3 separate regions of the Homo sapiens genome follow, and regions 2 and 3 are each linked to region 1. The links come from fine-mapping of genetic effects on gene expression. A gene starts in region 1. Each other region holds a variant in brackets. All regions are shown on one strand. Distances are between the middles of the regions. Region 1 holds the start of SLC1A1 (solute carrier family 1 member 1). Region 2 overlaps SPATA6L (spermatogenesis associated 6 like). Region 3 overlaps SPATA6L (spermatogenesis associated 6 like).

Region 1 (8,184 bases):
CCCATCAAAGAAAGTAATTGCTTGTTCTTCCCCTCCCTGTAAGACCAAGAATGTAACCACACCTGAACACTTTCACTATCAAAGAGAACTATTCACACATTAATCTCTGTTCAGAGATCCATTCATTCTCCCTAGTAATCCCCTCAGCAATTCCTCTTCTCTTCACCTCCCAAAACCTGTTTTACCAGGATTCAAGCCCCCATTCTTTCTGTAACCTCCAGATAGTATATAAACTTCTGGACCTCATTGGGAGGCTAGGTCTTCATTTTGAAGTCTCCCGTGTGTATACGTTCAATACATTGGTATGCCTTTTCTCCTATTAATAAATCTGCCTGTCAGTGATTTTGAAGCAAACCTTCAGGGGACCAAGGGCCTTGGTCCTCCCAGTGTGAAAGTGCAATGGGTGATGTAAGGCCTCTTGTCACCCAGGCTGGAGTGCAGTGGTGCAATCATAGCTCCCTGCAACCTCAAACTCCTGGGCTCAAGCCATCCTCTTGCCTCAGCCTCCCAAGTAGTGAGGACTACAGGCATGTGCCATCATGCCCAGGTTATTTATTTATTTTTTTAAGTTTTGTAGAGCCAAGATTTCACTAAGTTGCCCAGGTTGGTCTCAAACTCCTGGCTTCAAGTGATACTTCTGCCTCAGCCTCCCAAAGTGCTGGGAATATAGGTGTGAGTCGACACTCCCGGCTCTATGGTAGACACTTTGGAAATGCAAAAAGTAGAAGGCAAAGAAGACCATTGTTAAAATTTTGACATATTTCTTTTGTCATATTCTCCACCTACTGGGTTCAAGCGATTCTCCTGCCTCAGCCTCTCGAGTAGCTGGGATTACAGGCACCCGCCACCACGCCTGGCTAATTTTTGTATTTTTAGTAGAGATGGGCAATTCCTGATGATCAATGAGCAAGAGTTCTCGTGGGTCTGAAGGGGTTCAGAGTGTGTTAATGACAGGCAGGTGTTAAAAGATGGTGTTAAGAGATGCCTGTCCAGGTTGACTCCAAGTAAAATTGGTGGTGATATTTGTTTTGTGCCAGGGAGTGTTCTAAGCCTTTCACACAGATTATTGTATTAAATTATTAAAATACCTCCATGAGGTAAAGATAATTAATGCCCCCATTTTACAGATGAAGAAACTGAGACATAAAAAATTTAAGCCAGGTGCCCAAGGTCACCAAGCTGATAAGTGGTGGTGCTGGGATTTAAGCCTAAATACTTTACCCCGAGAACCCTAGTGTAATTGTCTTATTACAACCCAGAAAGTTGTGATGTACACATAGTTCCTCAGATGCTTCCACTTTTTTCTCCCCTCAGGAATGTTTATTTTGTAAATACTGCCCTATCTACAACTGTAATGAGCATGGGTATGCTTATGGTCAACACTTTTTTTTTTTTTTAAATAGATAGAGTCTCGCTCTGTCACCCAGGCTGGAGTACAGTGGTACAATTATAGCTCCCTGCAACCTCGAACTCCCGGGCTCAAACTATCCTCTTGCCTCAGCCTCCCAAGTAGCAGAGACTACAGGCATGTGCCATCATGGCCAGATTATTATTATTATTAAGTTTTGTAGAATCAAGATTTCACTAAGTTGCCCAGGTTGGTCTCAAACTCCTAGCCTCAAGTGATCCTTCTGCCTCAGCCTCCCAAACTGCTGGGAATATAATTGTGAGCCAACACGCCCAGCTCTATGGTAGACACTTTGGAAATATAAAAGATAGAAGGCAAAGATGACCATTGTTAAAATTTTGGCATATTTCTTCTGGTCTTTTTTTCTAAGCACATGGTTTTATTTCGTCTGTTTGTTGGTTGGTTGGTCGGTTTAGTTTTTGTAGAGACAGTGGTCTAATTATGTTGTCCAGGCTGGTCCTAAACTCCTGGGCTTAAGCAGTCCTACCATCTCGGCTTCCCAAAGTGCTGGGATTACGGGTGTGAGCCACTGCACCTGGCCAATATGTTTATTTTACACACATGTGATCAAATTGTACATGCAATTTTAGTATTTCTTTCTTCCCTTTATATTTATAAATATAGATTTATAACATGTGCCATCCCATGCTGTTAAAAACTTCATAAACTTCCTTTATGTAGGCTGCATAAGGTACTGTTGCTTGGCAGTTCCATAATATATTTACCATTCCATTTATGTTGGACATTTGCGTTTTTTCCAGCTGTTTTTTTACTGTGGGACAAATCTGTTCTCTCGCGCACGCTCTCTCTCTTTTTTTTTTATGAGACAGGGTTTCCCTCCGGTCGCCCAGGCAGGAGTGCTGCAGCGTGATCTCGGCTCACCGCAACCTCCACCTCCTGGGTTCAAGTGATTCTCCTGTCTCAGCCTCCCGAATAGCTGGGATTACAGGTGCATGGCCCTAAACCCGGCTAATTTTTGTATTTTTGGTAGACGGGATTTCCCCATGTTGGCCAGGCTGGTCTCGAACTCTTGACCTCAAGTGATCCGCCTGCCTTGGCCTCCCAAATTGCTGGAATTACAGGTGTGAGCCATCGCGCCCGGGACTATTCTCCCTTTCTTGATAGTTTCCCTTCTGACATTTCCTTCCTTCTTTCTTTCTTTTTTCTTTTTTTTTGACAGTCTCGCTCTGTCGCCTAGGCTGGAGCGCAGTGGCTTGATCTCAGCTTACTGCAATCTCCACCTTCCAGGTTCAAGCGATTCTCCTCCCTCAGCCTCCCAAGTAGCTGCGACTACAGGCACGTGCCACCACGCCCGGCTAATTTTTTTGTATTTTTAGCAGAGACGGGGTTTCACTGTGTTAGCCAGGATGGTCTCAATCTCCTGACCTCGTGATCCGCTCGCCTCGGACTCCCAAAGTCCTGAGATTACAGGCAAGAGCCACCGCACCCGGGTCCCCTTCTGACATTTCTTCAGATCTTCCTCGGACACCCAACGACCTTAAAATCCCTCTAACCTTCTTTCTCTCAAAGTTTACTTTCTATAAAGAGCTGATAAACTCATTCATACTAAAGTCTACAGGGTTGTAAATCTTAATCTATTATCGCTTAAAAGATGCTTGTATCAATTTACACCAAAGGGATGAAGCTCTAATTGTGGGGATTTAGTCATCAGAAAATCTAGTAGGGGAAATTCTCCCTACCCACAATCAGAGTAGATTCTACAATAGCAAAAAGGGTTCCAGGCTCACTTAACTTTAGGAACGCTGATAAGAAGACCGCTTACAGCTGCGGAGGTACTGATTTGGTAAAGGGAGGGAAAGAGATTGTATACGTGAGAGTGAAAAAATTGGGTAGAAAAATGGAAGAGCATCAGAAATTCACTTAGCAACACCAAATATATTTGGCACCACTAACCTAGTTTCTCCTGTGTTTGCCTTTCCAATCCGTTGGACCTTAGGGGATGGACCGCCCACTTTCTCCCCAGAGCGGCTCCCGGGTCCGGTTCTCAGTTCTAATCACTGCCCCAAGCCTCCATGCTCCAGGGCCTGTGGTCACAGAGCAAGTCCCAAGGAGCAGAAGTAAAGTTCTAAGAGAAATCACCATCTCCTTGTGCAGGGAACACTCCCAAGCCCAGTGTCCACAGACAAATCACCTCCAGCGACTCGAAGAGGAGAATAATCCCTGTGGGGGCACTGGAGGCTCCGCGTGAAAGTTTCCAAAGCCATGTTCTGCCCCAGGACTCCTTTCTCTCCTCCCAGAAGCTTCAGGCTTTCGCGGCTGCTGGCACATCCCAGCCTGAGTAGCCGAGCAAGAGGGACCCAAGGCAGGATCAGCTTCCCCCGACTTGAAAGGGCACCCGTTCTGCAGGTGCCGGCGCTGGAAATAGCTGGTGTGGAGAACGGAGAGGGAGACGTGCAGGATGAAGTCCGCGCCCAGGAGGGCAGTGGCTCCGCCTCTCTGGGTTAGGGACAGAAGAAAACCCTTAACCCAAAGCCCTAGCATGAGTGAGGCGTGGAAAGCGAGACAGACTCCAGTGGAAGGCTGTGGGGCGGGACTCAGGGTTCCCGGAGAGGCCGCCCCAGCTCCTGCCGCAGCGCTGGGCGCCCTACCACGCCTGCTCCCTAGGGACCCCGGGCGTCCCACGCACGCACCCACCCTCCTTCCCGGGCCTGCCGCTCCTCCCTCCTTCCTCGCTGGTTGGCCCAGGCGCCGCAGAGCGCGGCGGCAGCAGGAGGAGCCGGGCGCGCCTGCCACGCAAAACTACCGGGCTGGCAGGGCGGCGGGCGCGGTGCGCGATCCCGGGTGGCGGCGGCAACGGCGGTGGTGACGGCGGCGACTGCAGCGGCCGGCTCTCACCTCTCCCCTGTGCACCCGCATCTCGCCGCGCCGCCGAGCAGCCAGCAGTCCCCGGGTCGCCCAGCCCACGCGCGCACGGCCGAGCCCAGCGCACAATAGCGGCGACAGCCATGGGGAAACCGGCGAGGAAAGGATGCGAGTGGAAGCGCTTCCTGAAGAATAACTGGGTGTTGCTGTCCACCGTGGCCGCGGTGGTGCTAGGTGAGCGGCGCGGCGGGTGGGCGATGCGCGCACCCTCACGCGCTCTCTGCGCCCAGGCCGCGTGCGGCTGAGGGTGGGCTTGGCGCTGGCGCACTCCATGCAGGGTCCCTCGATGCCCCCTCGGCCTTAGCCTCGGGCCCCCTGCGGGGGCTTTCCCCCAAGCGCTCTAATTACTGCACACCAAGAACAAAGCTCCTCTGGGACTCCCATTTGAGTGCTCCTTGAGCTGCTGGTTCCTGCTCTACCCAAAATGATCAAAGGGGCTTGGGGGTAGAAAGGGAAGCAAGTAGCTCTTGGTTCTGCTCGTTTGAAAACAGGGTTCGATTTTTTTCTTTGTTAATCCCGCACCGTATCTCCCCCTATCACCGCCACCTTCCTCACCCCACACCCCCAGCCTCGCTGCGCGGGCAGAGATTGAGTGTGGATTACAGTTCTCAGTCGAATTGGAAGAGGCACCCTGGCCTCCGGGATGGGCCGGACCCTTAGGGGAGGGAGGCTGAGAACGCTGTCGCCGCTCATCCTGGGCAGTGCGTGGAAAGGTGCCTTCCCACGCGGCGAGCGCCGACTGCCTGCACCCGGGCTCTGAAAAGCTGCCAGATTCGTGCCTGAATTCTGGGATGTGCCACTGTGGCCCGCGGGAGGTCACCGGGGAAGAGAGCTAAGAGAACTCAGCCGTCTCTTCTCCTGCCTTCCTTGCTCTCCACGTTGTTTTTGTATTTAAGATAATGTTTAAGCCATCCTTGCCTGTTTTTAAACAAGGGTGTATTTAAGTGATCCACCCCTCACAGATCACTGGACCAGGTGGATGTCTGAGCCATTGCTCAGAGGTATGAGTTATTCCTATTTAGATTCTGATTTTTTACCAAGGTTGTGTGTTTCTAGCTCCGGCCCGGGGATGCACTTCCTTGGGATTAGCGCCATATCTGTCGCCTTCCCAGTGATAGCTCCTCAGCAGGTGAGGGCTGTTGCACCCTCTGAGGAATGTGGATTCCTCGGCAGGCTCCACCTTCCCCTTGGAAACTGCAGCTGTGTTTGCTGAAAAGGCAAGTGGGGACAGCTTGTTTCCTCCCAACCTCAGGTACCTTCCTCTCCAACTGCTGCTCCTAAATCTCAGAATATATGGTGTTGCTTGCTTCTCCTCCGAACCGCCCCCTCCCCTCAGGGTGGGGATAGGGCATGGAAATGGCCTTTGGAAGTTAATGGGATTCTTGGGGTCAGATTGGATTCTCCAGAACCTTGGGGAAAGGAAAGTCAGGTTTCTAGTAAATAAATAACATCCTGGAATGGCCCTAGCAGAGGCTATTTGTAGGAGGAAAGGAGAGAAGTACAGAAGCAAATCTTGACTATTTCCCCCAAGAAGTGCCAAGTGGTTTTGGAACTTTTTTTTTTCGGTTTTGAACATTTTTAAGGGAAAGTTTATCCTACTCTACCATATTTAAATAGCATACGCTACAAAGAACGACTTGATTTCCTTTAGGCCAAAGAGAAGAGATGGCCTTGTTTGTTTTCCTAGTGATAAGAGTCGAGGATTAATTGTTAAATCTCTTTTTGAAGACTGAGAGATGCCAGGGCAAGGTGGCTCATGCCTATAACCCCAGTTACTCGGGAGGCTGAGGCAGGAGAATTGCTTGAACCCAGAAGGCAGAGGTTGAAGTCAGCCAAGATTGTGCCACTGCACTCCCGCCTGGGTGACAGAGCAAGAATCCACCAAAAAAAAAAAAAAAAAAAGGAAAAGGACTTTTAGAGGGCCAGGCACGGTGACTCACACCTATAATCCCAATATTTTGGGAGGCCAAGGAAGGAGGATTGCTTGAGCCCAGGAGTTGGAGACCAGCCTGGGCAACATGGCAAAATGCCATCTCTACAAAAAAGTACAAAAATTAGCGTGGTGGTGCACATCTGTAGTCCTAGCTACTCAGGAGACTGAGGTGGGAGGATCACCTGAGCCCAGGGAGGTCGAGGCTGCAGTGAGCCGTGATCGTGACTCTGCACTCCAGCCTGGGCAACAAGAATGAGACCTTGTCTAAAAAGAAAAAAAAAAAAGACTTTGCAGGATAAACATTGGCTTGAGTCTCCCTCCTGATTCCCTGTGGAAGTGGAGTTATCCTGCCTTTTCAGCATGGGGCTCTCCAGAGATACTCACTTGCTACCCAAGTGTTGCACACCACTCGTCAGCATGCGATTCACTGGAGACTGGTTTGGAGAAGGTTTTAAGCAATTGTTCCCTGGCCTTTGGAATCAGTTGCGTGAATAAGAAGAAGTACATGCTCATTTTGCAGACATGGCCTTTGGTCTCAGATGGGCACTTTCCTCCAATTTTAATGTCTGTGAGCCCCAAGAGCTTAGTTTGAGTACTTTTCTCCAGAAAGGAAAGTCACCACTTAAAAATCAAGTGCCCAGCTGAAATCTTCCTAGATATTTGTTCCTTCAGATGGCAACAAAGGGCAGTCCTGCTTCTGGTCTGAGAAGTCTCAAACCTAGACCACCCCCGATATGCCCATTAACAGGGGTCCTTTTCTTGTCCTTTTTCTTCAGAGTACTGGGCCTGAGTGGAAACTCATACTTGTTTGTGTAGTCTGTAAGGGCTGATTTGTTTAATTGACAGTGAAATTCCAGTGACTTATAACAGTGGCACTGAGTCTATTCATAAACCCTTGCTAGATAATGATAGTAAGAGCTTATTTTATAACTGCCTTAACTGATCCAGAAAAATCGCAAGAGCTCTAATGCAGCCTCCCTTTTGGACTTTTCAGCATGTGGAACTTAAAGAAGAAAAAAAACTGTGAAATTTATTAACTATCATGACAAAACATCTTCTTCTGATTATAGCCGTTCAAATGTTTGGTCCCTGACCAGGTGCAGTGGCTCAGACTTGTAATCCTAGGACTTTGGAAGGCCAAGGTAGGAGGAATGAGTGAGTTCAGGAGTTTGAGACCAGCCTGATCTCATCTCTATTTCTAAAAAAAATAATTTAAAGAAATAATAATGCAATGAAATGTTCAGTCACTACTATAATTCAGTAGCCCTAATACTTTGAAATATTTGATTATAGAAATAAGAGGCAAAGATTTTTATGAGCCAGCTTAAAGCCTGATTTTTCAAGATACAGCACATGAGGGGAAATGTAATAAGGGTCATCTTTATTAGGTGTGGAAGTTCACTCTTTTCATGGACAAGGAAATGCTAAGAACTAAACATTTCTCAAATTCTTGTTCACAAGATGAAGGGATTCAATAGTTAGGTGACCATCTTTTTAAATTTCTGCGACACCCTACATGGTCCTGAAAATAGTATCTTGGATTTTCACAGGAAAATCCTCTGCTAAAATACCACTAGAAACACTTTCACGGCTTTCATTACAATTCTTATAGGCTTATTCTCTGCTTCCATAGAATGGTAGAATGAGCACAGAGCCTGGAGTGAAGAGTCCTTGGGATTTGAATTCTGGTACTATCAAGCTCTATCATGCAGGCAAACTGTGTATTTCCCTACAAGCCTCAATTTCCTCATCTGGAAATTGGAGATATTACTTATTACTTCGTTTGTTATTAGAGGTGTGAAAGATACTCAGTTGTGTGGCTGGCATATATTCAGCACTCAATAGTTGTTATTTTAAGGTAAATCTGAATAATTTGATTATGAGAAAATTAATATTTTCTTATGAAATAAATTCTCTCATAGTATGTCTCTTTCTGTGTCCTGCTTAGTGTCCCGCCTAT
Region 2 (8,184 bases), 120 kb after region 1:
GAATCTCACTCAAAACCACTCAACTACATGGAAACTGAACAACCTGCTCCTGAATGACTACTGGGTACATAACGAAATGAAGGCAGAAATAAAGATGTTCTTTGAAACCAACGAGAACAAAGACACAACATACCAGAATCTCTGGGATACATTCAAAGCAGTGTGTAGAGGGAAATTTATAGCACTAAATGCCCACAAGAGAAAGCAGGAAAGATCCAAAATTGACACTCTAACATCACAATTAAAAGAACTAGAAAAGCAAGAGCAAACACATCCAAAAGCTAGCAGAAGGCAAGAAATAACTAAAATCAGAGCAGAACTGAAGGAAATAGAGACACAAAAAACCCTTCAAAAAATTAATGAATCCAGGATCTGGTTTTTTGAAAGGATCAACAAAATAGATAGACCACTAGCAAGACTAATAAAGAAAAAAAGAGAGAAGAATCAAATAGACGCAATATAAAATGATAAAGGGGATATCACCACCGATCCCACAGAAATACAAACTACCATCAGAGAATACTACAAACACCTCTACGCAAATAAACTACAAAATCTAGAAGAAATGGATAAATTCCTCGACACATACGCTCTCCCAAGACTAAACCAGGAAGAAGTTGAATCTCTGAATAGACCAATAACAGGATCTGAAATTGTGGCAATAATCAATAGCTTACCAACCAAAAAGAGTCCACGACCAGATGGATTCACAGCCGAATTCTACCAGAGGTACAAGGAGGAACTGGTACCATTCCTTCTGAAACTATTCCAATCAATAGAAAAAGAGGGAATCCTCCCTAACTCATTTTATGAGGCCAGCATCATTCTGATACCAAAGCCTGGCAGAGACACAACCAAAAAAGAGAATTTTAGACCAATATCCTTGATGAACATTGATGCAAAATTCCCCAAAAAATACTGGCAAAACGAATCCAGCAGCACATCAAAAAGCTTAACCACCATGATCAAGTGGGCTTCATCCCTGGGATGCAAGGCTAGTTCAATATACGCAAATCAATAAATGTAATCCAGCATATAAACAGAACCAAAGACAAAAACCACATGATTATCTCAATAGATGCAGAAAAGGCCTTTGACAAAATTCAACAACACTTCATGCTAAAAACTCTCAATAAATTAGGTATTGATGGGACGTATTTCAAAATAATAAGAGCTATCTGTGACAAACCCAAAGCCAATATCATACTGAATGGGCAAAAACTGGAAGCATTCCCTTTGAAAACTGGCACAAGACAGGGATGCCCTCTCTCACCACTCCTATTCAACATAGTGTTGGAAGTTCTGGCCAGGGCAATTAGGCAGGAGAAGGAAATAAAGGGTATTCAATTGGGAAAAGAAGAAGTCAAATTGTCCCTGTTTGCAGACGACATGATTGTGTGTGCAGAAAACCCCATTGTCTCAGCCCAAAATCTCCTTAAGCTGATAAGCAACTTCAGCAAAGTCTCAGGATACAAAATCAATGTACAAAAATCACAAGTATTCTTATACACCAACAACAGACAAACAGAGAGCCAAATCATGAGTGAACTCCCATTCACAATTGCTTCAAAGAGAATAAAATACCTAGGAATCCAACTTACAAGGGATGTGAAGGACCTCTTCAAGGAGAAGTATAAACCACTGCTCAATGAAATAAAAGAGGATACAAACAAATGGAAGAACATTCCATGCTCATGGGTAGGAAGACTCAATATCGTGAAAATGGCCATACTGCCCAAGGTAATTTACAGATTCAATGCCATCCCCATCAAGCTACCAATGACTTTCTTCACAGAATTGGAAAAAACTACTTTAAAGTTCATATGGAACCAAAAAACAGCCCGCATCGCCAAGTCAATCCTAAGCCAAAAGAACAAAGCTGGAGGCATCACACTACCTGACTTCAAACTATACTACAAGGCTACAGTAACCAAAACAGCATGGTACTGGTACCAAAACAGAGATATAGATCAATGGAACAGAACAGAGCCCTCAGAAATAATGCCGCATATCTACAACTATCTGATCTTTGACAAACCTGAGAAAAACAAGCAATGGGGAAAGGATTCCCTATTTAATAAATGGTGCTGGGAAAACTGGCTAGCCATATGTAGAAAGCTGAAACTGGATCCCTTCCTTACACCTTATACAAAAATCAATTCCAGATGGATTAAAGAATTAAATGTTAGACCTAAAACCATAAAAACCCTAGAAGAAAACCTAGGCAATACCATTCAGGACATAGGCATGGGCAAGGACTTCATGTCTAAAACACCAAAAGCAATGGCAACAAAAGCCAAAATTGACAAATGGGATCTAATTCAACTAAACAGCTTCTGCACAGCAAAAGAAACTACCATCAGAGTGAACAGGCAACCTACAAAATGGGAGAAAATTTTTGCAACCTACTCATCTGACAAAGGGCTAATATCCAGAATCTACAATGAACTCAAACAAATTTACAAGAAAAAAACAAACAACCCCATCAAAAAGTGGGCAAAGGACATGAACAGACACTTCTCAAAAGAAGACATTTATGCAGCCAAAAAACACATGAAAAAATGCTCATCATCACTGGCCATCAGAGAAATGCAAATCAAAACCACATTGAGATACCATCTCACACCAGTTAGAATGGCAATCATTAAAAAGTCAGGAAACAACAGGTGCTAGAGAGGATGTGGAGAAATAGGAACACTTTTACACTGTTGGTGGGACTGTAAACTAGTTCAACCATTGTGGAAGTCAGTGTGGCGATTCCTCAGGGATCTAGAACTAGAAATACCATTTGACCCAGCCATCCCATTACTGGGTATATACCCAAAGGACTATAAATCATGCTGCTATAAAGACACATGCACACCTATGTTTATTGCGGCACTACTCACAATAGCAAAGACTCGGAACCAACCCAAATGTCCAAGAATGATAGACTGGATTAAGAAAATGTGGCACATATATACCACGGAATACTATGCAGCCATAAAAAATGATGAGTTCATGTCCTTTGTAGGGACACGGATGAAATTGGAAATCACCATTCTCAGTAAACTATCGCAAGAACAAAAAACCAAACACCGCATATTCTCACTCATAGGTGGGAATTGAACAATGAGATCACATGGACACAGGAAGGGGAACATCACACTCTGGGGACTGTTGTGGGGTGGGGGGAGGGGGGAGGGATAGCAGTGGGAGATACACCTAATGCTAGATGACGAGTTAGTGGGTGCAGC[G/A]CACCAGCGTGGCACATGTATACATATGTAACTAACCTGCACAATGTGCACATGTACCCTAAAACTTAAAGTATAATAATAAAAGAAAAAAAAATTTTTAATCCAAAAAATTTTAATATAAAATTTAATCCCAGTAGTTGTTGTTTCACGGAGAGATTATCACCCAGGCTAACGTACAACTGCATGATCATAGCTCACTGCAACCTTGAACTCTTGGACTCAAGCAATCCTCCAACTTCAGCCTCCCAGGTAGAGAGGACCAACTAGGTACATGTTGCCATGCCTGGCTATTTTTTTTTTTCCTTAAGAGATAGGGTCTTGCTACCCAGGCTGGTCTCGAACTCCTGGGCTCAAGGGATCCTTCCACCTCAATCTCCCAAAGAGCTGGGACTACAGGTATGCACCACCATGCAGAGCTCACTTTCAAATATTTTGTAGAGACAGGGTCTCCCCATGCTGTCCAGGCTGGTCTCAAACTTTTGTACTCAGTGATCCTCCTGCCTCAGCCTCCCAAAGTGCTGGGATTACAGGTGTGAGCCACTACACCCAGCCTCCAATCCTGGTTGTTTCCTACCACCAGGACTTTATCTTATATCTCATTTACTTTAGGCCACCCAGACTCCAAACTGAACCATAGGTTTGACAGTCTCTTTCAGTTCCCCAAACATAGAGCATTTTCTACCTTCCATAGGCATTTGGCAACACTGTTCTCTCTTCTACCTCCCAACCCCAGGGGCTCACTACTCTTATTAACTCCTACCCACCCTTCAGAGTTCAGTTCAATTGTTGAGTTCTCAGCAAAGTCCTTTCTGAGCCCTCTCCTGTAGAGGAGGTCAGCTGCTCTGTTATACGGACTTGCAGTTTCATTTATCTATACCTCATTAATACCATTTGCACCACTGGACATTTTGTCATTATTTGGTTAATGGCGGTCTTTACTCCTAGAGTGAAATTGAGCTGAGACTCTTTGTTTAATAGCTCATCCCAGGGCAGAGTAGGAACTGAATAGCACAGTAAGTAGCTAATAAATATTTCTTGAGTGATTGAATTCATTCTCTCGTTCATTCATTCATTCATTCATCCATCCATTAATATTCAGGAGGGGGATGGTTACCAAATCCTAAAGTCTGAGGTATAACTAAGCTGAAAGTGTACATAGCAATTTGATAATGAAAGGCACAGATACAGTTTTCTAAAAACACCCAAAGAATTATAGCCACTTGGGGCCAGGCGCAGTGGCTCACACCTATAATCCCAGCACTTTGGAAGGCTGAGGCGGGCGGATCTCTTGAGGCCAAGAGTTCCAGACCAGCCTGGCTAAAGTAGTGAAACCCCATCTCTACTAAAATACAAAAAATTAGCCAGGTGTGGTGGTGGTACATCTGTAGTCCCAGATACCAGGAGGCTGAGGCATGAAAATTGCTTGAACCTGGGAGGTGGAGGTTGTAGTGAGCTGAGATGGGGCCACTGTACTCCAGCCTGGGTAACATAGCAAGATTCTATCTCAAAAAAAAAAAAGAAAGAAAGAAAGAAAGAAAATGATTCTCTTTAATTAATGTATGGTAAACACTGGAAATGACAGGAACATCTGGAAATCCAGTTGTTACTATGGCTACCATATGAATGACCTCCCTGTGCAGTTGCCCCTCTGCTTGGCTGGTTCCGGCCCACATCCAGGCCTCCACTCCAGCTCTCTCTGTGACAAGCATGTCCCACTGGTTTTTCCAGGGAGATAAGACCAACAGTATGAATGGATCTACACAAATCCATTGCCAACCCAAGAAAACAACTCATAGTAAATGGAAGCACCACCTAAAGCACTGCCCATGTTTAAGACTACAAACATTATTTCTATTCTTCTCTAAGAACTTTTTTTTTTTGACCCAGAGTCTCATTCTGTTGCCCATGCTGGAGTGCAGTGGCGCTACCTCCGCTCACTGCAACCTCTGCCTCCTATGTTCAAGCAATTCTCCTGCCTCAACCTCCCAAGTAGCTGAGACTACAGGTATAAGCCACCAAGCCCAGCGAATTTTTGTATTTTTCGTAGAGACGGGGTTTTGCCTTGTTGGCCAGGCTGGTCTTGAATTCCTGACCTCAAGTGATCCACCCACCTCGCTTCCCAAAGTGCAGGGATTCCAGGTGTGAGCCACCACGCTTGGCCCTTCTCTAAGAATGTTTAGGAGGAAGGAATAGAAATATGTTGAAGCTATAAATGAAGCTAGCATTTAAAAACAGCCACCAGCTAGATACTGTAAATTCTTTTTCATAGGTCTAGAGTAACCAATACCAAAGCGACTCTTTCATTTGTTACCATTATTGTTACATGCAATTTATTTTACATTTGAAGATCTCAGAGAATGATGAGTCAACAGATGGGAGCAGCGCTGTGCCTTTACCACAGCCTTCTCCATGGGATCTACCTTCTCCTCGAGTCATGTGGAGAGAGAGGATGTGCTGAAGGGGCATGACGCTATTCAGATGGTGGATACAGGGAACAGGCTTGGCAGTGTTTCTCCCTCCTTTAGTACTCCCATTGTTCACTCTTATAATGTGTTTTCTACCTTGTCCATTAAAACCTTGGGTTGACTCTCATTCCAAAATTTGTCTCCCAACTCATCCTTATGACCTTGATCCTTACTGACTTCAGTATTAAGTTAGCAGAAAAGCAACAGGGATTCTCATGCACCCTTGTGAACTGGACACAGAGAAAGAGTGGTCCTGATATTGCTGGTATGAAAAGAACACTGAGTGAGTGGAGACACAGTGCTGACAACCCCCAGTGTCCCAGGAATCTGCCCTAGTGATCGCTCTAAAGCCAACGGGCAATGTGTTCTGCAAGGATATGAAGGGCACATCCCTCATTCAAAAGAACTGTTTTTAAAATATTATCTTCAGAGCCACTTCTCTAGTGTGAAGGTGACCAGCTGTCTTGGTTTACCTGGGACTCAGGGGTTTCCCAGGATGCAAACTTTTGGTACTGAAACCAGGACAGCCATGGGCAAACTGGATGGCCTTTCTGTGGCTGTGTTATTATTTGCCGCTGATAATCATGGCCTTATTTACAAACTCATAGTCCAACTAGGTCCCAAGTTACCAGTTTAGAGAGACTTTGGGCACAAAGAATTTGCTGCCTCATCAGAGATGGCCAATAAAACTCTGGTCTGCAGCTAAGACTCATCTTTCTAAAGTCACTTGTGCCAACTCCTGTGACTAATGTCACAGAGCTCCTCACTCCTTCCAAGCAAAGCCCAAGCTCCTTAGGTCAGCCAACAAAGGTCCCCCTCAAACCTTTGAGTCCTGGCACTGACTTTCTCCCAAACTCCTCTAACTGCTGGAAGCTGACAGTGCCCCTGCCTCCCACCTGCCATCACTCACCTCTATGAACCCCATCATAAACCAATCTTCTCTCCTCAAGGCCACATGAAAGCATCACCTCCTCCATGAAACATTCCAGAAGTACCACCCTTCTTCTTTATACTCCAGTAACTTTTGTTCCACACTATTCACAAAGTGCTGCTTTGTAGAAAGCTCTTTGCATACTTCTTTTTTATTATTTTTTTTATATCCTCTGCTAGGTTGCAAGTTTTCAGAGATCAGGAGAAATGTCTTAAATGTTAGTGTTCCCATTGCTGGCCTAGCAGATTGAGTATCATTCCTGCTTTCCGTCTTAACCACAGATTTAACGTGCTCCCCGCCCACATACTCAATTCCAATCCCAGTTGATTTTGACTCAGTAAACATGAGGCAATTCTTCCGTTGGCCAGAGTTGAGAATTGCTGGCCTGCTGCATAAAGACACTCAGGAAAGGCTGGCTGAATGAATGCATAAACCATCTAACACATATTTAAAGAGAAAAGAGGACTTCTCAGGTCTCTCTCCTGATGTAACTGATTTCCTCTCACTCTGTCTCTCCCCTGCATTTGGATTGTACTTCTGTTAGGTACCTACCACAATCTATCTCATATTCAGTGACAAGGGGGTATGTCTGCCTTCCTGTCTAGTATGTGAGCCAGTGGAAAGCAGAGACATGTCATGATGGTGTCCATTGCCCCCAACAGTTGCCCAATAACAGCATGCTCAATACAGTCTCTCAGAAAAGCTTGCTGTACTGCTTTTAAGGAGTTTGGGAGGTGTTATAGATACCAGGCACAGAGACAAAAACCACGGGTTTTCCCCAGTTCTGGTGGCTGAGAAGCACTTTGTGGCTGTATGCAGATGGATCTTTGATCATCAAACCCATTTTAAAGATGAGGAAACTGAGGTTTAAAAGGTTGAAGCCAGGCACGGTGGCTCATGCCTGTACCCAGCACTTTGGGAGGCCAAGACAATTGCTTGAGCCCAGGAGTTTGAGAAGAGCCTGGGCAACACAGTGAGACCCCATCTTTACAAAAATAAAAATATGAAAATTAGCCGGGCATGCCGGTGCGCACCTGCAGTCCCAGTTACTCAGGAGGCTGAGGCAGGAGGATTGCTTGGGTTGGGGAGGTCAAGGCTGCAGTAAGCTGTGATTGTGCCACTGCACTCCAGCCTGGGTGACAAAGCAAGACCCCATCTCGAAAAAAAATAATAATAATTAATTTAAAAAAATAGGTGGAGTAGCTGTGTGAAATCACCCAGCACTTAGAGACACATGAGCGCTAGAGCCCATGTCTCCTGACCACTGTTAATTGAAAGTTCTTTCCGTTCTTCATTTAAAATCAATCCTCTACAAGTCTTTAAATCCAGGATGACCTCCTGTGCTTTGCCAGCCTGCTGAATTCCAGGCTGGTGGCAAAAGCATAAGACAGGAGGGGACAGAGGCCAGGCATAGAGAGGTGTAAGTGTGTCTCTGACCACTTGTCTCTGTGTGCCAGAGCCAGTTTTTTGTTTGTTTGTTTGTTTTAAACGGAATTGCGCTCTTGTTGCCCAGGCTGGAATGCAATGGCACGATCTCAGCTCACCCCAACCT
Region 3 (8,184 bases), 110 kb after region 1:
CCAGCTTTATGTGGGCCACAGAGCCTTTGGCTGGTTTAGATTTGAATTTGAAGATGAACACCTTGTGGGAGGATGGGGTGTTACATGCTCCACTTCACTCCAGCTCCCATCACTCACCATTATTTCAAACTCAACTGCTTCTGACAGTCACAAATCCTGCCTGGTCCTAAAGACATCCGAGTTTGCAACACCTTTTGGGAATCACACTTGAAATATCTCGTTTAAGGTCTCATTGCCCCAGTAAGTATGGAAACTTCAAGAGGGCACGGGTTGAATTTTACACCCCTTAGTGTGACCCCTCCCGACCCCACAGGGTCCTGCGCAATACTGAGCACACAGAAGGAGTTTAACAAATACAAGTTGAGTGGGTCCATGCGAGGCTGTGGGATCAATTTTGTTAACTGCAGGGCTGGGAGGAGACCCAGTGAACAAAGGACGTCATCCTATCCCTTAAGCAACAACAAATGAGCTTTCATAATGAAGAGTTCCCACCATGAATGCAACGCTTCCAGCAATAACACCTACTGCCACTGCCTACGGTCTGTTCCTGGAAGTCATCCCAATAAAACAAGTATGATGTTTATCTCAGTTCAAAATTCCAATTTCAGTGAGTGTCCGTTCCTGGAGAAAAAGGAACAGGAAAGTTTATTTGGGGGTGGTGGGGAGGAGGGGACTTCCTAAAAATGCCGTTTACAAACATAACATTTCAATGACAGGAAATACGAGCAGAAAGCCTCTCTTGTTGGCCTAAACAAGAAGTGGTTAATTGTTCCAACTTCTGTCAAGAGACCTTAGTTGCTCTGTTATTCTGAAATGTTCTGAGTTCATGTTTTTCAAACCCTTTAAGTTGAATTATCTGTGATGCCTCAGGGCCAACCAGGTGGCAGCAAAGGGGTGACAGGAAGTGGTACAGAGAACCTGAGGTTTGGAAACAAGACAGAGCAGGGTTTGCAAACTGGCTCTGACGCTTGCTTTTCTGAGCCTCAGTGTCCTTAGCAAGAAATAGGGGGAGCAATGCTTTCCTCAAAAAATTAAATGAGATGAGAATAAGAATAGCTAATGCTCACTGAGTGCTCATTTTGTGCCAGGCACTGATTTAATGTACTTTAAATGTATTATCTACCAACAATAACATTATTAGACAGATACTATTATTACCTCCATATTATACATAAGGACATTGAGACACAAAGAGGTTAAATTATCTGTCCAAGGCACTCAGCCTGTAAATGGCAGAACTAGGATTTAAATCCAGGTACTCGGAGGGGCGCAGTGGCTCATACCTGTAAGCCTAGCATTTTGGGAGGCCGAGGCGGCAGATCACTTGAGGCCAGGAGTTCAAGACCAGCCTGGTCAATATAGGGAGACTCCTTCTCTATTTTTTATATATATAAAAAAAGAAAACAAAATACACACACACACACACACACACACACACACACACACACACACACACACACGGTGGGGCGTGGGGGGTGAGGTGGGCGGAGCTAATGGATCACTCTAAAAGACGCAGAATCCCAAGGAAAAATTTTGGACTAGAAACTCCTCATTTTGTTGAAGAAGCTCCATCAACTCAGCCATCAAGAAAAGGACCCATCTGCACCATGTAAAAGCTCCTGTCCTAGACATGACCCTGTTTTGACCAAATTCCCTATGTGAAATTAAGCATAGGTTCTTTCCTTTGATAAACAAAGTAACTTCATTGCCATAATTTGGTGCCCCTAGATTCAGTGTGGAGGATGGGGCTCCCAGGCCAAAGGAGCAAAGGGTTGGGGCTCTCATCACTGTTGGCAGGGTTCCCAGCACAAGGGAAGAGAGAAGAGGTCTCCCTAAGACCTGCAGGTCCGCTAAGTAGTGCTAGGAGGGGTCCCCTAACCAGAGAAAGACAGCAGTCCCATCCGGTGGTACTAGTGGGTTCTCTGGTCACAGCATGGACTACAGAGCATATCCTGTTCCTCAGGCTGCCCTCCAGAGAGCCCAGCGGGCTCCTTTGATGGACCAACTCAGGGGAGTACTGGCTATACTGAGAGTAGCCTGGCATTTGGGTGCTAGGGCTGAACTCACACACATACCCATCAGTCTTCTCAAATTACACCTAAAACCCGCCACCTCTTTTATGTCAAACATATCATTTGCACTCTCATTTTTTAAAAATCTCTTTTATAATTCATGGCCTACAGGCTTCAGCTAACTTTGGGTCAGTCAGGTGACCACAGAGAACTGGCCTCATTGTACAGCAGCTTTTGTTTGGAGGGCCTAGGTTCCACAAAGGAGATTTTCTTAGGAGCCTCTGCAAACCAAGACCCCATGAAACATGCCCATAAAATATGCTCCAGGCTTTGACAGATCTGCAACCATAAAAATCAAGAAAGGAATTATAAACTGAAGCAAGACAGATGGGAATTCTTTTTATGATGTTTAATGACACAGATCTTCCCAAAGTAATCCAAACCCCAAAACATCACAAAATTATTCATACTATTATACACTCCAAAAGCAAAATACTTCAACTGCAATCCTTGCCCCAGCATGATTCCTCAAAATTGAGATAACTCCTTGAGAAACAAAAGTAAAAATAATAATAATTTAAGGAATAGAGTTAATAGATGCAAAAGTAAAGGGAAAAAAAGCGTAATTTAGTGTGAAAACCAAAAATGACTTTAAATAAGAATGGGCATTTAAGATCTTATTAAAGAGTTATGCTTAAACCATTTCAAAAAACACTGAATATTGAATGTCATGGTGTATATTTTAACAATAACTGAAATGGGATACCAATTCATTAGTGCTGCTTTCCTTTAGCTGCTTACGTAAGCAGCCCTCTCCTGAGACTTATAGCGTAACCTTAATGTAACACAATATTTTCTTACTTTTGATGACTACTTAGAGGTAACATCAAAACAACAAATTGACAACCATAGTTTCAGAGAGACTGAGAACATATTAGCATATGTAATTTAAGCTTGCTGTTGGCCTTGCCAAGGTGGAATGCTGGTTGTGATACAGGTTGAGTCTCCCTTATCTTCAGTGCTTGGGACTGACCAGAAGTATTTTAAACTTGGGTTTTGGTTTTTGTTTTTGTATTTTGGAATATTTACATAAACACAATGAAGTATCTTCAGGATAGGGGATAGGACCCAAGTCTAAACACGAAATTCATTTACGTTTTATATACACTTTATACAGGTAGCCTGAAGGTAATTTTATACATGATTTTAAATAATTTGGAGCATGAAACAAAGTTTCGAATGCATTTGACTGCACCCTGCCACATGCAGTCAGATGTGGAATTTTTCACTTATGGTGTTATATTGGTGCTCAAAAAGTTTTGGATTTTGGAGCATTTCAGATTTCAGATTTTTAGATTGGGAGGTTCAACTTGGATATACCTTTATTTGGCTGAAATTCTAAGAAGAGGATAAATGAATTTTGTTTTGTTGTTTTTGTTTTTGGAGTTCCTTTTCTGTTTTAATTTTTAATTTCATTTTCTTAATTTACCTAATGAACCAATCCCTATGATTACAGTGAGAAAAGAAAACTTGGCTCTCACTGAATCTTCTAAAAACTGAACAAGTTTTAGGGTAGTGTCTTACTCTATTCAGGCTGCTATAACAAAATGTCATAAACTGGGTAGCTTACAAACTACAGGAATTCATTTCTCACAGTTCTGGAAGCTGGGAAGTCCAAGATCAGAATGTTGGCAGATGCAGAATCTGGTGAGGGCCCTCTTCCTGGGTCAGAGATGGCGCCTTCTCGCTGTCTCCTCGCCAGTGGAAGGGGCAAACGAGCTCCCTTGAGCCTATTTATAGGGCACTAATCTCATTTATGAGGGGTCCACCCTCACAACCTCATCACCTCCCAAAAGGCCCCATTTCCTTAGAGGTTAGGATTTCAACATACAAATGTTGAGGGGACACAAACATTCACACTATAGTAGGGCTGGTAGAGGAAAATGCTATGCTTACACTATGAAGGAGGGAAATAAGTTTCCATTTTCAGGCCCCTCTTCTCTGGGTCTGTATCAATGAAGACAAATGTGCCTCTAGTCTCCCTTTATCCCAGCCCCTTCCTATTCCTGCTCCCTCACACTGTGTAAGCATTTCATAGATGCACCTTCCTAACTAACTTTAAAACCTGGCATTGGCAGTCCTATCTGTAGAACCTATTTACTTAATGTGTAGTTCTTTTGGAGAAATATTTGAGGAAGGTTTTGTTCCTCATCTAAATTTACAAAGAATTGCTGGAACGAAGGAGTAGGAAACAGAAGGAGCAGTTTAAACTACGCTCCAGAGGAGCCAGCCTCCTCTTACAAATTTATCACAGACATTCAACATCTAAAACAAGATCTGAACTACCCAGACGTAATGCTCTCTTTTCCAAGGTTTTTAGTGGACTTCACGTAAATCAAGCCTAACACTAAGAAATAAACAAACAACAACAAAAACGGATCTACCGAAAAGAGAAAGTCAGGTTGATAGTCTTTCCTGGAGGATTTATCAGGTTATTCCTGTGAATAGCAACTTCCTCTAGCTCATATATAATTAATTTGAGAGAGAGAGACAGAGAGAGCCAGAGAGAGCCAGAGAGAGAGAGAGGGGAAGTGTTCAGATAAGCACCTGCCACCCAAC[T/C]ACAGCGCTTTCTCTTTCATGTTCAAAACAAACATGCAAAAACACAAATTTTCCAGCTTGACAAGAAAATGTTAGCCCCCAAACAGCAAACACTTTAATCAACAACTCTTACCTGGGCACAAAAGACTGAGTACAGGGTTTGGTTTAAAGGGGATTAGACATCAGTGACTCAACACAGACAACAAAAAGTGTTCATTTCTTTAAGGATGCTTCAATTGTCTCAGTGAGTGAGCTCTTCATGATTCTCCTTAAGCTTTCATTAATTTCCCCTGCAAAATTTGAAACATCACATTCTACATGTGGTATTGAGAAAAAGGCAAACAATCAATACAAGTAAGGAGAAAAAGATAATGTCATACTACCCCAATCTTGGCATGTAGCTATGCCTTGGGATCACTTAGTCTCTGAGCTTTTTCCCCAGATTCCCACAACAGAATAACCCAGTGAGCATCTGTGTGACCTTGGACAATTTACTTGACGTCTTTGTAAAATATCAGGATGATGACAGAGTATCTACCTCTTACTATTATAGTGAAGAGTTAGCATTGCTACATAGTAAATGTGCCAAAATAGGTGTTATTCAGTTGAGCTGTTAAACGTGTTCCAATTAACTATATTCTACTGAACAAATTTCCTTCCTTCCTTCCCTTCCCTCCTTCCTCCCTTCCTTCCTTCCCTCCCTCACTCCCTTCTTTCTTCCTTTCTTTCCTTTCTTTTTGATGGAGTCTTGCTCTGTAATTTGGCACTGCACACTGGGGGCCGGGATTTCACGGCAATTATGCCTTCCAAGAGAACTAGGGATAATCTGAGGGGTTTCTTTACGGGAGGTTTTTTTTTTTGTTTGGTTTTTTGGATGTTTGGTTTTTGTGTGGTAAAATTCACCAATTTTAAATATACAAGGGATACTCTGTTTATACCAAAAGTACCAAGTCCCAAAAGATCCAGAAATAGATGTATTCCAACCCCTTCAACCCATTTCTTCCACCCATTCTCTCCCTCTACGTGGTCAGACAATGGGACTCATTGTTTTTGGCTCAAGAATCCCTGACCTTTTTGTGGTAAGAATCTACTTTTTCATCTCCCTGAGATCTCGAGATCGCTGGGGAGCCAGGACCTGGCAGTGAAACAGATATGGAGAAGGGGAGGGACAGGAATTGGTGCTGCCATTAGAAGAGAGTCCTCAAGAAAAGCCGGGACTGGGACACGTAGTGGGAGCCACTGGGTTGTGTGTGGGGGATGCCTCCTGCCTGGGGTCTGTCCTCCCAACCCACAGGAGTGGCTCTGGCTGTCCTGTTCTAGCTATTTGATCTTGCCTGTTTGGATCTTTCCTGGACTCACTGAGATGGATGCTCAGCATCTTTCAAATAAATGCCCCGTTTGCTTAAGACTAGCCAGAGTCACTTGGGTTTTTCACAATCACTAAAGCTTCACTAAAATGACCCTCCAGGATCCCAGCCTCTCCAGGAATCCATGACTCAAGAAGCGGGGTCAGGGAGGATGGTATGGAGACTTCCAGAGAAGGTATTCTAAGCGTATGCCAAACTACTGGGTGGGAATTCCTGTTGTGTGGGAAACCTATTTTCCAAGAAAGAATTGACGTTTTTTTTTTTTCTTTTCTTACCTTCTCTCTATCCCCCCACATCAATGTCCACATATCAGCTGGTTCAGGGCTCTATGTAACTTGATATTACCCATGTTGAAATTCAATGTAATTTGGCATTTGATAATCATGTGGGCTATGTTCCGTATAACCACCTAAATAATTGCCTAGACGGCAATTATTTTGGTAACCAGAGAGTAAATGGCCCAGAATCCGTCCTTTAATCTAGCAAGCAGAACGTTCTAAGGTAGAAGCCTCCAGAATGGGCCATTACTGAGCTGTCCTGCACATTCCTCTGTGCTAAAGGTGGGGAGCCCTGGCCATTCCTAAGGCAAGCCAACTTGTTCTGTAAAGCATGCATGACCCTCAAAACAGACTTTCAGGAGCCTGACTACAGTGAAAACTTAGCAGGTCATCCCACACTCCTTTATTGTTTAGAAAGACGCATAATTATTCTGATCCTGCTGACATGAGGACTATACAGGACAAAGCTATAGGATCCTAGTGGGAGCCTTCCAAAGGCCAATGCCCACGAACTCTGCTTGGGTTCCAAAGGGCCCTCCTTCACACATGGGGAGACATGGATTTCCATGTAAGATTACACTCTAGCTTTGAAAATGCAATAGAATGTAGTGGTTAAGAGAATAAAGCTCCACCATTCACTAGCCATGTCACCTTGAGCAAGGGACCTAACCTATGCCTCAGTTTTCCTATCTGTAAGATGGAACTAATGATAGTACCTATCTCATTGGGTTGTCCTGAGAATTAGATATGAATTTGTTTAATACATGTGAAGTATGTGTACTAGTCTCAGCACTCAGGCCGCATGTCATAAGGAAGAGCGATTATTATTCTGGGCTTGAATGGAAAAGAAAAGAATATATGAGAAACGATGATGTCCCACAATGTGGCTAACTACTTGCCACAGATCTGAATTCTAGAGTTGCCTTGTTACATGCATTCATAATCAATGCATATTCAACATGCATTTATAAAAACTCTTTACTGCGACCGGGCACGGTGGCTCACGCCTGTAATACCAGCACTTTGGGAGGCTGAGGCAGGCAGATCACGAGGTCAGGAGTTTGAGACCAGGCTGACCAACATGGTGAAACCCCATCTCTACTAAAAATACAAAAATTAGCTGGGTGTGGTTGTGCACACCTGTAATCCCAGCTACTCAGGAGGCTGAGGCAGGAGAATCACTTGAACCTGGGGGGTGGAGGTTGCAGTGAACCAAGATTGCGCCATTGCACTCTAGCCTGGGTGACAGAGCTCCATGTCAAAACAAAAACAAAAACAAAAAAAACCCTCTTTACTGAGCAGCAACCATTGTGGAGGGTCAGGTGATACAGAGACAGCAGCAGGGTGGAGATGGGTAGGCAGGTTCTTGTTCAGTGCACACACCTAGTACATGTGTTTGCAAAGTTAAATGTGATTCCATTGTATGGCACTAAATACTGCGTATAAAGCAGTGAACAACAGAGACAGATTCTCTGATCTCATAAGGTTTCACTCCAGTAGAAGAGACAGATTTTAAACAATCAGCCCAGATAAAAATATAATAAGAAATTGTGTCATAATTTATGAAGGAAAAATGCTGTGTACTAAAGGGTACACATCACAGAGAGAGGGAGTGTCGTGTCATAGAAAATCATAAGCCTGGAAGGACAAATAGAAGTTATCCAGGCAGAGTCAGGAAGACATATTCCAGATGGAGAAAACAACATGTGCAGAGACCCCATGGCAGGAAAAAGCTCCGTGTTCAAGAAGCTGAAAGAAGGCCGGAAAGTCTATTAGATAAAGGGTGATGTTGCGGGCAGGGGAGATGATTACAAGAGGAAGCAAGAGAGCTGGAAGGCACGTGCACTGCAGTTATCATACAGAGCAAGGGAAGAACGCAGTTCTCAGGTCTCCTCCAAGTCTCCTGTCCTCCACACTTTCTAGTTACTT

What was found.
Region 2: its variant is fine-mapped to the expression of SLC1A1 in blood mononuclear cells (TOPMed, PIP 0.95).
Region 3: its variant is fine-mapped to the expression of SLC1A1 in T cells (TOPMed, PIP above 0.99). The same link has a PIP of 0.9 or more in blood mononuclear cells.

Annotation. Positions count from the first base shown.
Region 1 is chr9:4,486,306-4,494,489 of GRCh38, forward strand. SLC1A1 (solute carrier family 1 member 1) reads left to right here and starts at 4,163. Exons shown (of 12, transcript NM_004170.6): 1 at 4,163-4,465. The coding sequence starts at 4,375. It also overlaps a transcript of GLIS3 not described here. RefSeq lists silencers at 426-515, 3,961-4,390 and an enhancer at 3,761-3,810.
Region 2 is chr9:4,608,486-4,616,669 of GRCh38, forward strand. The region is part of intron 9 of SPATA6L (spermatogenesis associated 6 like); the gene reads right to left. Among named protein-coding and RNA genes, the nearest start is that of PLPP6, 50 kb to the right of the region's middle. The variant G/A (reference allele first, on the strand shown) is at 3,237.
Region 3 is chr9:4,595,910-4,604,093 of GRCh38, forward strand. SPATA6L (spermatogenesis associated 6 like) reads right to left here. Exons shown (of 12, transcript NM_001353486.2): 12 at 2,407-4,900. Among named protein-coding and RNA genes, the nearest start is that of PLPP6, 62 kb to the right of the region's middle. The variant T/C (reference allele first, on the strand shown) is at 4,632.